3 linked regions of the Homo sapiens genome follow. The protein of the gene in region 2 interacts with the protein of the main gene of each other region in a biochemical or structural test. Each region holds a gene or a part of one and is shown on either strand. Other genes may lie near its edges. The genes, in order: MECP2, HIPK2 and TLE1.

Region 1 (3,648 bases), on a different chromosome or scaffold from region 2:
GCCCTCACATAATCCCTAAGCAGGCTATTTCTTATGGATGTCTACAACAGCTTCACACTGAGGTGTCAGAAACCACTAGAGAGACAACAAAGAACGACTTAGGGTCTCAGTCGGAATCACAATGGCCGCATAAGTGAAAACTCACATTTTTGCTTAGGGGAAAAAAAATGGGAAAATTCAATTGGAACATTCTGCTTTACCACACAGAAGTTCTGAAATCCACATGTCAAAACATCAAATGCGGAGTGACCACTAATCAAAAAGACAAAACAAAACAACAACAACAACAACAACAACAAACAGCTTGAGATGTTGAGCCTGAAGGTTGAGAAATTAAGGAACCATTCATTTTTACAAAACTAAAGTCCACACAATGGTGCCAAGTAGTTCAAACTGCAGCTGATACAGCACCTGAGTGTCAGACCTAGAATGACTGGGGCCCCCAGGTTTTTACAAAGTACTCATCCTCCTCTAGAGTCCCAAGAACCAGATGTATATCTGGGTACTCTCTTTAGTTACCATGGGAGGAGTGTAGCAAGCACATGACATTAGCCATGGCCCCCGGTGTTCTGAGACAGCTTTCAGGAGGGTGTCCTTCTAGGGAACCAACCACATACCAGTTCCCATATCTGAAAATGCATTACCACTGCTCACTAATGTTGACCACTAAGCCATTTACCCCAAACCAAAGCAAACACATGCTGAAGACCGCTAAGGCAACAGCAGCAGCGCAAAAGGGCTCAGTGCAAGCGCTCTCAGCTCAGCTGACCTGCTTCAAGGTGAACTGAAGTTGCAGATCACCAGTTCCGGCTCTAATCTGACGCCCGCCCCCAGATCACGCTGTGGCGACCAAGTAACCCTACACACACTGACCTTTCAGGGCTCAGGGAAGTGACTTTTTTTTATTATATGGCACAGTTTGGCACAGTTATGTCTTTAGTCTTTGGGGTACTTTTATACTGTCCAAGAGTAGTATATTTTTTTCCTCTTTTCCTTTTTTTTTTTTTTTTAAAAAAAAAAAAAACAGATGGCCAAACCAGGACATATACTAAAAAAAAAAAAAGGAAGGTTACTTACCTGAGCCCTAACATCCCAGCTACCATGGAATCCTGTTGGAGCTGGTCTACAGAAGCAAGGTGTATTCTGGGGAGTCACATGTCACATCAAAGCAGGAACTGGTGAGTCTGTATTTTTATGGAGCCTAAAACAAAGAAAATTGTAAGTTGAAAGCCCCCATTGAGCTGCACGACCTTTTTCCCAGGGCTATTTGGGACATTTTGAAGATAAACACATAGACAAAGTACTAGGCTATTTCCCAGCTTACCTAGCTAGAAACAAAGGATAAGCTGCAAATTACTGGCACGTAACACACAGTGCTAAAATAAAGGAAAGATTCATGCTTGTTAGAATCAACACTATCACAAGCCTTGTCACCTCTAGGGGACACTTCGACACTACAAAAGCATACCATGAGTGGCGATTTCTGGCAAGTATTTCTTCTACCACGGCACACAGAAATTCTCAGGGAAGAATACATGTTCAAGAGAATACGCAACATCAAAATACCATCCCTGAAAGAACACATGGAACCTAGAGGCAGTCTCCCTTCTTTTTCAAGCAGCTGAATGAAGTTGCAATAAGCTGCTGTAACAACATCACATAAAGGGGCTTTAATCCTGAGAGAAAAAATCAGCACCAAGGGAAACCAAGTGCTCTGGGAGACCCAAAGCCATCATCCAAAACATGCAAGTCTATTTCAGGGCAATCAGTTTTAAGCCTCTCAGATCAGTCAATCTCGATGTTCAACAAACTCAGTTATTAGTTTGATAGTTTCTCTTTTTCTTTTGAACACATGTTCAAAAAAGGACTTTTGTCAGTACCTTTTTTGTCATTAAGATAACCATCATTTCCTAGTTAAAGCCTAAACTGCCCCATATGAATTAGCTAATTTCTGATACTATGCTGGCCCAAGAGTAGCACTTTTATAAGCTAAAAACGAAAGCTCAGAGCATACAACTTAGAGACTATTCACACAATTACTCATGTAATCAAACCCAGAAGAAGGGCAACACCAACCAAGTCTTTTACTGGTCTGTTGCTGCTCTACAGCTACCAGGATGGTACCTAAAATTATCTTTTGAGGTTCAGTGAGGCCTCATAATTCCCTTAAACAGTCAAGTCATAGAATACTTTGAAATCCCAGAAGTCAAGTTAATAGTATTACTCGGCTAGCTATATAATAAAAACCAAACTGGTATCCTGGCTAGGAGGCCCTGGAAAAGTCACAACTTCTCAGGGACACAAGTTTTTTTTGTTTGTAAACTGATGGTGCTGGACTAAGAATCCTTCTAGTTCTTAAAGTTTAAGATAATTAACTTAAGATTTCATGTCAAAAAGAAAAGAGCCAGAGGCTGGGTGCGGTGGCTCACGCCTGTAATCCCTGCACTTTGGGAGGCTGAAGCGGGTGGATCACGAGGTCAGGAGTTCAAGACCAGCGTGGCCAAGATGGTGAAACCCCGTCTCGACTAAAAAAAAAAAAAAAAAAAAAAAAAAATACAAAAATTAGCCAGGCGTGGTGGCAGGTGCCTGTAATCCCAGCTACTTGGGAGGCTGAGGCAGAGAACTGCTTGAGCCCGGGAGGCAGAGGTTGCAGTGAGCTGAGATCGTGCCACTGCACTCCAGCATGGGTGACAGAGTGAGACTGTCTCAAAAAAAAAAAAAAAAAAAGAAAGAAAGAAAAGAGAAAATGAGAGCAGTTTATGAAATCTAAAAAAGAAAGTTAATATATATATAAAACACCCCTAGCTCTTGGGCTAGGAAGACAAGTGCATCCTTACTAAGGCTTGGTCCTGTCAACTTCAGAGGCAATAATGAGAGCCCAGACTACAGTGTCTACAGTAACTGCAAAACAGCCACACAGCACAGCGGGAACACATTCACACGCCAGGAGACCCAGCATACATGTGCTTGAAGAAGTTATAAGACTCAGGCTTTATTCTCTAACGAAATGGTCATTCCCCCTTTGATGTGGGGGTGGGGGTGGGGATGCCCTGCCCACCCCCCAATTCCGGCTCCCACTCAGTTATCCCACATACCATACATACCATCAAAGTATTTAAGCAATGGCATGCAAAGCAAGCTTTCGACAGGTTTCTTGCAAGAGAAAGGCAGAAGAGAACAGGTAAAAGCAGAAGAGCACACAGGTAAAAGCAGAAGAGCACAACTTCTACTTAAGCCCAAAGAAGAGGGACCTGTTCACATCTTGTCCTACCCGGAATGATGCACACGCACAGGGGCTTGCCGGGACAGCAGTAGTTTCACTGGAAAGGGCTGGTATGGAGGCACCGAGGACAAGGTCCTTCCATCGCAGCGGTGATAATGCTCTACCCAAGAAAAAAAGATTGCGTCTGCCAGCCACGCAAGACTGGTCTGCAAGGATGTCACCATAGCAGAGGGCAGGGAAAACAAGCAGGTGTCCTGCCACACTCTTTGGGACTGGCCAGTCTAGGAGTGTGCTTTACCCCACGCACTGAAAACACTGGTTACTAGAAATATCAAACATTTCCTGTGATTCTCTCCTCCAAGATAACTCGGGCAGCTTGAGAACAAGCTGCTCTTAGCTAATTAAAAGATTTCTGCTGATATTAA
Region 2 (3,648 bases):
CAACACCTGAAAGGTGACACCATTAAGAAAATCCCTCTGTCCTTCAGAATAGTGTTTCTCAAAGACTGGTCCTAAGACCCCCTGCCTGGCTCACCTCCAGTTCTCTGAGGCAAGTCTCTGTGGTGGTGGGTGTGGACTTTCTCCCAGGGTACTCCCAGGGAGACTCTGTTCCCAGCAACCTCTCCAGGAGATTCCTGTGCACAGTAAAGCCTGAGAACCTGGGCAGCTGACAGTTAATGACATAACTGACCTTCGAATTGGAAGGGAATACCCCTGCTTCAGACTCGAGAAAAAAACTTAAAAAGCAGCCTTTGTTTCCTGAAAAACACACCAGTGGGCTTGCCTCACAGAATACCAACAGCCACTGTGGCCAGGCACATGCCTGAGAGCTGGGGAAAACAGTTGGCTCCGGGGACACCACCTCCTTTTCCAAGTCCCCAAGGCGAGGATAACATATCCTTGTCTCACACCGTTTCTGTGTCACTAGGTGGGGACAATGGTGGGATGAGACACTTAGCCCAGTCCCATGCAAAATGACAGAGGGACACATAAGTACTCTACCTTTTGAAAGTCAGATGTCCTGGGACGATAATGTGCCCAGCTCAGATACAGGGGGCCGAGGGGAGAAAGTCCCCACCCACCACCTGCAGGACAAAGGCCAACCTGCTGGGAGGCTGGATGCACAGCATGCAATGACTCCTCCAGCCCAGGCGGCTCAAACACACAGCCATTCCCTCACGATGCAGATGCAGCTGAAAGCATCTGAAAGCGTCTTCTTTCTGGGACATGGGCCTTAACGATGGACAATTAAAGAGCTTTTCTTGCCCCCTTTCTTTCCTATAAGAGGCAAAGCCACCAGGAAAATCAACTTGATAAACATGGCCTAGAGCTGGCTGTCCCACACAGCTGGGACGAAAAGAGACAGAGCACTAGAGACTGTCCTCGAAAAATCGGATCGATCTATATGGTGGCAAACCACTGCAGGGCTCAGACAAGGCCTGAGGGAGAAACAGAACATTGCACCAACTTAGAAATGAAGCCTCATTTCAGGCAGAAGAGCCGCTGTCTTTCCTGCTGACCGTATTTTTGGAACCAGGGCTGGGCACAGGGAGGCTGACATGAGGGCCTGAAGGTGACCACAGAAAGGAGAAAGAGGCCTTCTTGCTCAGAATTTTAGGCAATGGTGATTTCAGGGGTGAAAAGAGGGTACTATCACAACTAAACGGAGGGTCCTTCAGAGGGATGTGGGGACACAGGGGCCAGATGTGACTGTGCCTGTCACGAAGTGGGGAAAAGAGGGCTCCTGAGGGCCCAGGAACCGCCAGCAAACCAGCCTACCACACCCACCAGAGGCGTCCAAAAGGCCTGATCTCACCCACAGAGGGGGGCAGGAGAGGATCGCTGTGAGTCCAGGTGAAGGAGTCAGCCCTCCCCAACCCTCACAGGCAAACTTTTACTGCTGCCGCAGGCTTCCTGAGCTAGGATCCCCGATTTTGCGACCTGTCTCCTCAGCACTAGGGGCACCAGCACCAGGCAGGAAAGCAAAGAAAAACTCGCAGAGTCCAAGGGGATGGGCAGGGAGGGCTCCAGGAAGCGTCACATGGGCACCAGAAGGCAAGATGACAAGGGGGTCTTAAGAATCCCCAATTCAGCTTACTCGATTCACCAAGTTTCGCTCTAAGGATGTGCTGCCTTTTAAACAGAGTTTGTCGAAGTCTTTTTACAAGTCGCCATGCTAGCTTTCAGTGAATGTTAATAACACTGGTACGTGTTCATGATGCAGCAATTCAGATGAACTACATAAAAGCCCTAGCAGCCAAGTCAGGGGCTGTTCACCCTGAATTCAGGCCAAGAACTAGAAAGAGCCAGCCTTTGGCATGCTGAATTTACCAACCTAAATACGAAGTGGCACAGCAGCCTCCCAGAGCCAGCACAGCACCAGCTAGCCCCCAATGGGGCTGGTACCCGGGACGGCCACCAGAGCTGGCTTTCAGAGGCCCAGGCACTCTCTACAGAGAATATGTGCTGTCGGTACCGGGCACCCAACCCTCCAGATTCACTCAACCATTGCCCATCCTTCTCCTCTGGAGACAAGGAGAGGCTTCTTGTCTTCCTTGGAGGCTCCTGCCCTGGGCTTACTTCTCCCTGCCATTGGCTCTGGGGCCAGCGGGGCACAGAGTGGATGGCCTGGTCAGGACGAGGGAGTGGAGAGCAAGTGGAGGGGCAGCAGTAGACCCGTCTGTCCGCACGGGGCCTGGTGGTGAAAGCACAGGCCTGTGGAGACCTTTCTGCGCATAGGAAATGAGCGGGAAAGGAATCCTCAGGGCAGGGCAGAGAAGAGGCTCGCAGAGAGCTGTTCTAACTCAGGAAATGCCTCCTAAAGGGAAGAGGGAAGAGACAGAAACAGCATGGGTGAAGAGGCCTCGAAACCTCCTGTGTGAGTCAGGATTAGGATGAAAGGAGACGGGGTGGAAGGTGGGAGGGCATCTGGGGATCCGAACGGAGGGGCTGTTGCTCTCCCAGGGAAGGAGGGCCTGGTGCCCAGCAGGCTGAGGGAGGGGCTGGGAGGAGACTTGCAACAGCTCTGCCTGCAGCCAGGATGGGGGCCCGGACAGGGAGCAAGAAGGGGAAGCTGGCCCAGGTCAGCCCCAGGAATGGGTGACAGGTCAGCTGTGTCGACAAGGCCCTGGGGCATGTTCCAGCCTTCTCTCTGTGGCCTTGAAAGGCGCATGGAGAAAGCACACGGGCAAGCGAGCGTGCTTGCTTGCAAGCAGGATGGCCTCCGGGGACCCCGGTCTTCCTGCCTACGTGGCACGCTCTTAAATGTGCATCCGTCCCATCTTCTCATGGGAGTTTCAGTTTTGTTTCTTGTGACCTCTATCTCCACTGCACTGTTCGGCACCACCCCAAACACACCCCCAGGCTGGTTCCACAGAGCAGGGTCTTGCTTTCCATCCCTGCCGCCTCCCCGCTGTGCACCCGCCATGGCCAGCCACGGAGTGACACACCTAAGCCATGTTACAGCCATGTTACCTCCCAGCTGCCCACGAGGCTGGTGAGAGGATTTCTCCCACTTCATGGGTTAGGAAATGAAGGCATGGAGAAATCAGGCCATTAGGAGAGGAGGGACCAGGTTCACTCTGGCCTTTCCTGACTCCAAAGCCAGCACTCCGATCTCAGCTCCATGTCGGCAGCGGTTCCAATCCTGACTGCATACAGGGGTCCCTGAAAAGCTTCCAGATACCCCAGGATGGCAAGGGCCCTGTCTATATCCCTATACCTAGCACTGCGGCTGGCACATATTAAAAGTGAAATCAAAGCTTGTTGAATGACTGCATGTGTGAGTCCATGACTGAACACACTTCCCTGCCACGGACACTATCATTCCTCCCTCATCCTGACCCAAAGCCTGAAGTCACCTTACCACAGGAGCCACCCAGCTGGCCCCAGACTAGTCTCTCCCTTCCTCCAGCCCTTCTGCACGTGGATAGACAAGGAACCTTCTCGGAACATCCCTTTCAACCCGTTACCTTATGTTGTTCAAGGTTTCCAGGGCTTGCTCTGGGTTTGAGGATACAGTTGCAATTCCTTGATCTGATATTTAAGACCCCCAGTGACCTGGTTCCAACCAGGCTTTCACTCACATCT
Region 3 (3,648 bases), on a different chromosome or scaffold from region 2:
CAAGGTTGTTCTTTAAAGAACCTTGTGCTTCATTCAAAAATCGCCATCAGAAACGATCAGCCAACAGGGATCTGCTGAGCACAGATGCTGTGCAAGGCAACTAGCAGAGCTGCTGAGGGGAGGTCAGTGTAAGCCCCAGCAGGGACGGTGACTGGTGGACTCAGTTCTGCATGCTGAGAGGAAGGTGGTGGGGGAGGCAGCCAGAAAAGGCGAGCAAAGTCTAGACCCACCCTCAGAAGCAGGCGGGATCCAGTAAAGAACTGCGTGGGAATTTCAACACTGAGAAGAAAGTTACCATGCTGCTTCTTCCTCCAGGATCCCCACACCTTATCATTCCTGTAGAGCTCCAAACTTTTAACCTGAGCTTGGATTTTAAAGAGTGCAAGGGAAGGAAAAAGCACCACTACTGCCCTAAATTCTAAGCCAAGACGTGAACCATCACTTTTAAAATCTTCTCTCTGCAAGCCATCCCCAACTTCTGCACTTTAGGATCCAGGTTGAGTCCTCTCTCCTGCGGCCGTGCAGCTGGACCTCCAATGTTTCCGCTTGCTTCCCAGACATCCCCACAGAACACCCAGGCCTGGAGCAGTCCCTGCTTCACTTGGTGAAAGTGTTGCTTTCCTTCCCTTCAAACAGCTCTGGAAATCCAGTGACCCTCTGACTTCTTTTGACCTTTCTAACTCATGAAACGCTGTTCCTCCTTGACTGAAAACACCTTCCTCTGCTGACATACAGTACCTGGCAGCTGCTCCCCCATCCCTCTGCCCTCTCTCCGTCCATATACTATACTCCAGCATTACTCTCAGGCACATCCTATGACTGTTCAGAACGTGCTGGGTTACAGTGGATACAAAGACATTCAATAGGCTTTACATGGCCCTATTACATGCAGCAGCCACTAGCCACCTGTGAGTGGTCCAGAGAAAGATTTGTAAGACGCTACCCCATTCTATCCAACAGGTATTTACTCCCCAGGAGCCGGCACGGAGCAAGGGTTCAGAGTACAGACGAGAGCAGAATGCCTGGGCCTCAACTTGGCTCCACCACATCTGACTGTGTGACCTGAAGCCAGTAACTTACCCTCTCTGAGCCTCAGGCACTTCCTCTATAAAATGGGGCAAATAGCAGGACAGACGTTATGAGAACTAAGTGGAGGAATATTTGAAAAGTGCTTAGAATTGATATTTTGAAAGTGCTACTTATGGAGTTTTAAAAAAAGAAAAAAACAAGTAACTTTTGCTAGGATAAAAGGTGGAGAGGGCGTTCGGCCCTGGCTCCATCATTCCATTTTGCTCACCTACACTACCCAGCAAACAGAAGAGGAAAGTAACTGCCGCACTGTCACCCACACGCAGGGACCGGGCCCGGCTCAATGACACTTCATGGATTTCTACAGCGGAGGTTTGAAGAGAGTGAGCTGTCATGATGACTTCTGGAGCCCGTCCCTTCTCTGTGCAGCATGAGAGGGGACTTACCAAACAAGCCACAGACCCCAAACTGCACCATCCGCAGGGACGGCTTCCCAGCAAAGATGAAACAAGAGTAAAACATGTACTCATTTTACCTTTCATGTTTCATTCATGCTTACTTTAAAAAGACTTTTTGAGAACAGCTCTGGTGTGAGCACTGACTTCTGAAGGGAGCATTTGGCGGGGGAGCTGAGGAGAGACACATGGGTACCAGAACTGCAGCTGCTGCTAAGGTGACAGGGCTGATGCCAGAAGGCCAGGCAGAGCCCTGCGGGCTCCTGGGTGGAACCACCCCTGGGCAGGTCTATTTCATTATTGAGATACTTTAAAATCATTTTGTAGGCAAAATTCACAGAATCTCCTCTTCTCATGTCCCTTTGTTGATTTTCTGTTATCTTTTATCAGTTGGCTCTTGTCTGCACCAAGTTCTAGCCAAAGCCCAAAACATCTAGTATCAAGGGCCTTTTGTGCTGCCGTGTAATCCACATTAGGCCACCCCTTGGCAAAAGCCAGAAATATTTTTAGAACAAGTTTGGAGTCTGTATGTGGGCTGAAGAATTGGCACATTAAGGAGATAGAAAGTCTCGGGTGACACCAGGCATAGTAATAAGACTGTAAGCCCCCCAAAGGCAGCAACACAGTTGTCTTTGTTCCCTCATCACCTAGCCCCATGCCTGGCATTCAAGAGGCTCTTATTGTGTGGGCTGCAGGCAGCCAGAGAGAAGCAGAGGTGATAGGCCCAGCTGCTAAAGAAGCGAACCCCTCCTTAGACGACCATCTTTGCTCACCTCACTAGTGTCTGGTTGTGCAGATCCCACACAGCGATGTTGCCGTCGCTGCAGCATGAGAAGCAGACCTTGGAATCGGGGCTGATGGCCAGGGCGTAGCAGGCGGGGGCCGAGGACGTCAGCTCCGCCTTGATGCGCGGGGTTGGAGCCGCCAGGTCCCAAATGGACAAAGTACTGGCTTCCCCTCCCACTATGAGAGTGCAGCCATCGGGTAGCAATTTACAGGAACGGATATAATTGTCTCTGTTCTGTAGAATAAACATAATTCATTGCTATAATGAATTACCGAGCAATCATAGCACCATGTTCTCTAATGGCTGTCTTGGTTTTTTGAGTTAAGAGTGGTGTTTCATGGACACTCTAACAGAGCAAGAGTTCTCTAGTCAAGATTGGGGTCCAAGTACAACTGTCTCCTTCAAAATAGTAAACAAAACAAATTCACAGGAGCTTAGGTAACTGCTTCTGGTGTCCTGCATCACAGAGCTGAAACTATCTAGGTATGAGGTACAGGTGTACACATAGTTCCCTGAGAAGAAACCACTTTTCCAAGCTAGTTTATAAATCTACCTCATCACCCTGCATTATTTACCACTTGGAAACTGCAGGCCCATCCTCTATGTTTCGGTCTTCGTTATGCTGAGCACATTACCTCATTAGTCAGAAGGATTCTTGCTAAGAATTTACCAGAGCTGCTTTCTCAAGTTGTCATGTGGCTGCTGTTACACTTAAGCCCCTCAATGCAAAGGCCAAAGAACCTGATAAAAGCAGGCATCTTTCCATCAAAACCGACACATATGAAGGGGCTGTGGGTGGGGGGCCCTCATATGATCAACTCCTGAAAGATGCAGATATGGCTAAAGTTTGCTTACATGCTTTTAACGATGGATTATCTTTCAAAGATTAAAGAAACTTTAAGCACATGACTTCAACAAAGGATACTCCTACTGCTATAGAATATTGGGCCATATTTAAATAAGAATTTCATGAATGAAGACATTTTGAAGTTATTTGGTTTTTTTAAAAAATGCACTAATAACTACTCTAAAAAAAGTCTGTGTTTCCAAAACACCGCCACTCTGCTTTTTGGAAACACCTTCTCTGGAATCCTTACAATTTTCCAGGCAGGCAGTGGGTACGTGGCACCATCTGCAACAGCAGAGTGCAGGCAGACACCACACCAGGGCAGGGCAGGGCAGGGCAGCTCGGAGTCTGCTTAAGGCCAGTGGTATGTGCTCTGTAAATCCTGGGGTTATGGTTTAGAAATCGGAACATGGCCGGGCGCGGTGGCTCACGCCTATAATCCCAGCACTTTGGAAGGCCAAGGCGGGCGGATCACAAGGTCAGGAGATCGAGACCATTCTGGCTAACATGGTGAAACCCCGTCTCTACTA

What was found.
Region 1: of the proteins of HIPK2 (region 2) and MECP2, one has a biochemical effect on the other in vitro, tested with the Homo sapiens proteins (one study listed by BioGRID).
Region 3: the proteins of HIPK2 (region 2) and TLE1 form a complex in vitro, tested with the Homo sapiens proteins (one study listed by IntAct).

Annotation. Positions count from the first base shown.
Region 1 is NC_000023.11:154,091,107-154,094,754, forward strand, and holds part of MECP2 (methyl-CpG-binding protein 2), read right to left. Parts: exon of another isoform or gene 3,272-3,648; intron 2,444-3,271; exon of another isoform or gene 1,104-2,443; coding exon of another isoform or gene 1,078-1,103; intron 1-1,077. UniProt on the Homo sapiens protein: Chromosomal protein that binds to methylated DNA. It can bind specifically to a single methyl-CpG pair. It is not influenced by sequences flanking the methyl-CpGs.
Region 2 is NC_000007.14:139,711,878-139,715,525, forward strand, and holds part of HIPK2 (homeodomain-interacting protein kinase 2), read right to left. Parts: intron 1-3,648.
Region 3 is NC_000009.12:81,588,548-81,592,195, forward strand, and holds part of TLE1 (transducin-like enhancer protein 1), read right to left. Parts: intron 2,506-3,648; coding exon 2,258-2,505; intron 1,564-2,257; exon of another isoform or gene 961-1,563; intron 1-960. UniProt on the Homo sapiens protein: Transcriptional corepressor that binds to a number of transcription factors. Inhibits NF-kappa-B-regulated gene expression. Inhibits the transcriptional activation mediated by FOXA2, and by CTNNB1 and TCF family members in Wnt signaling.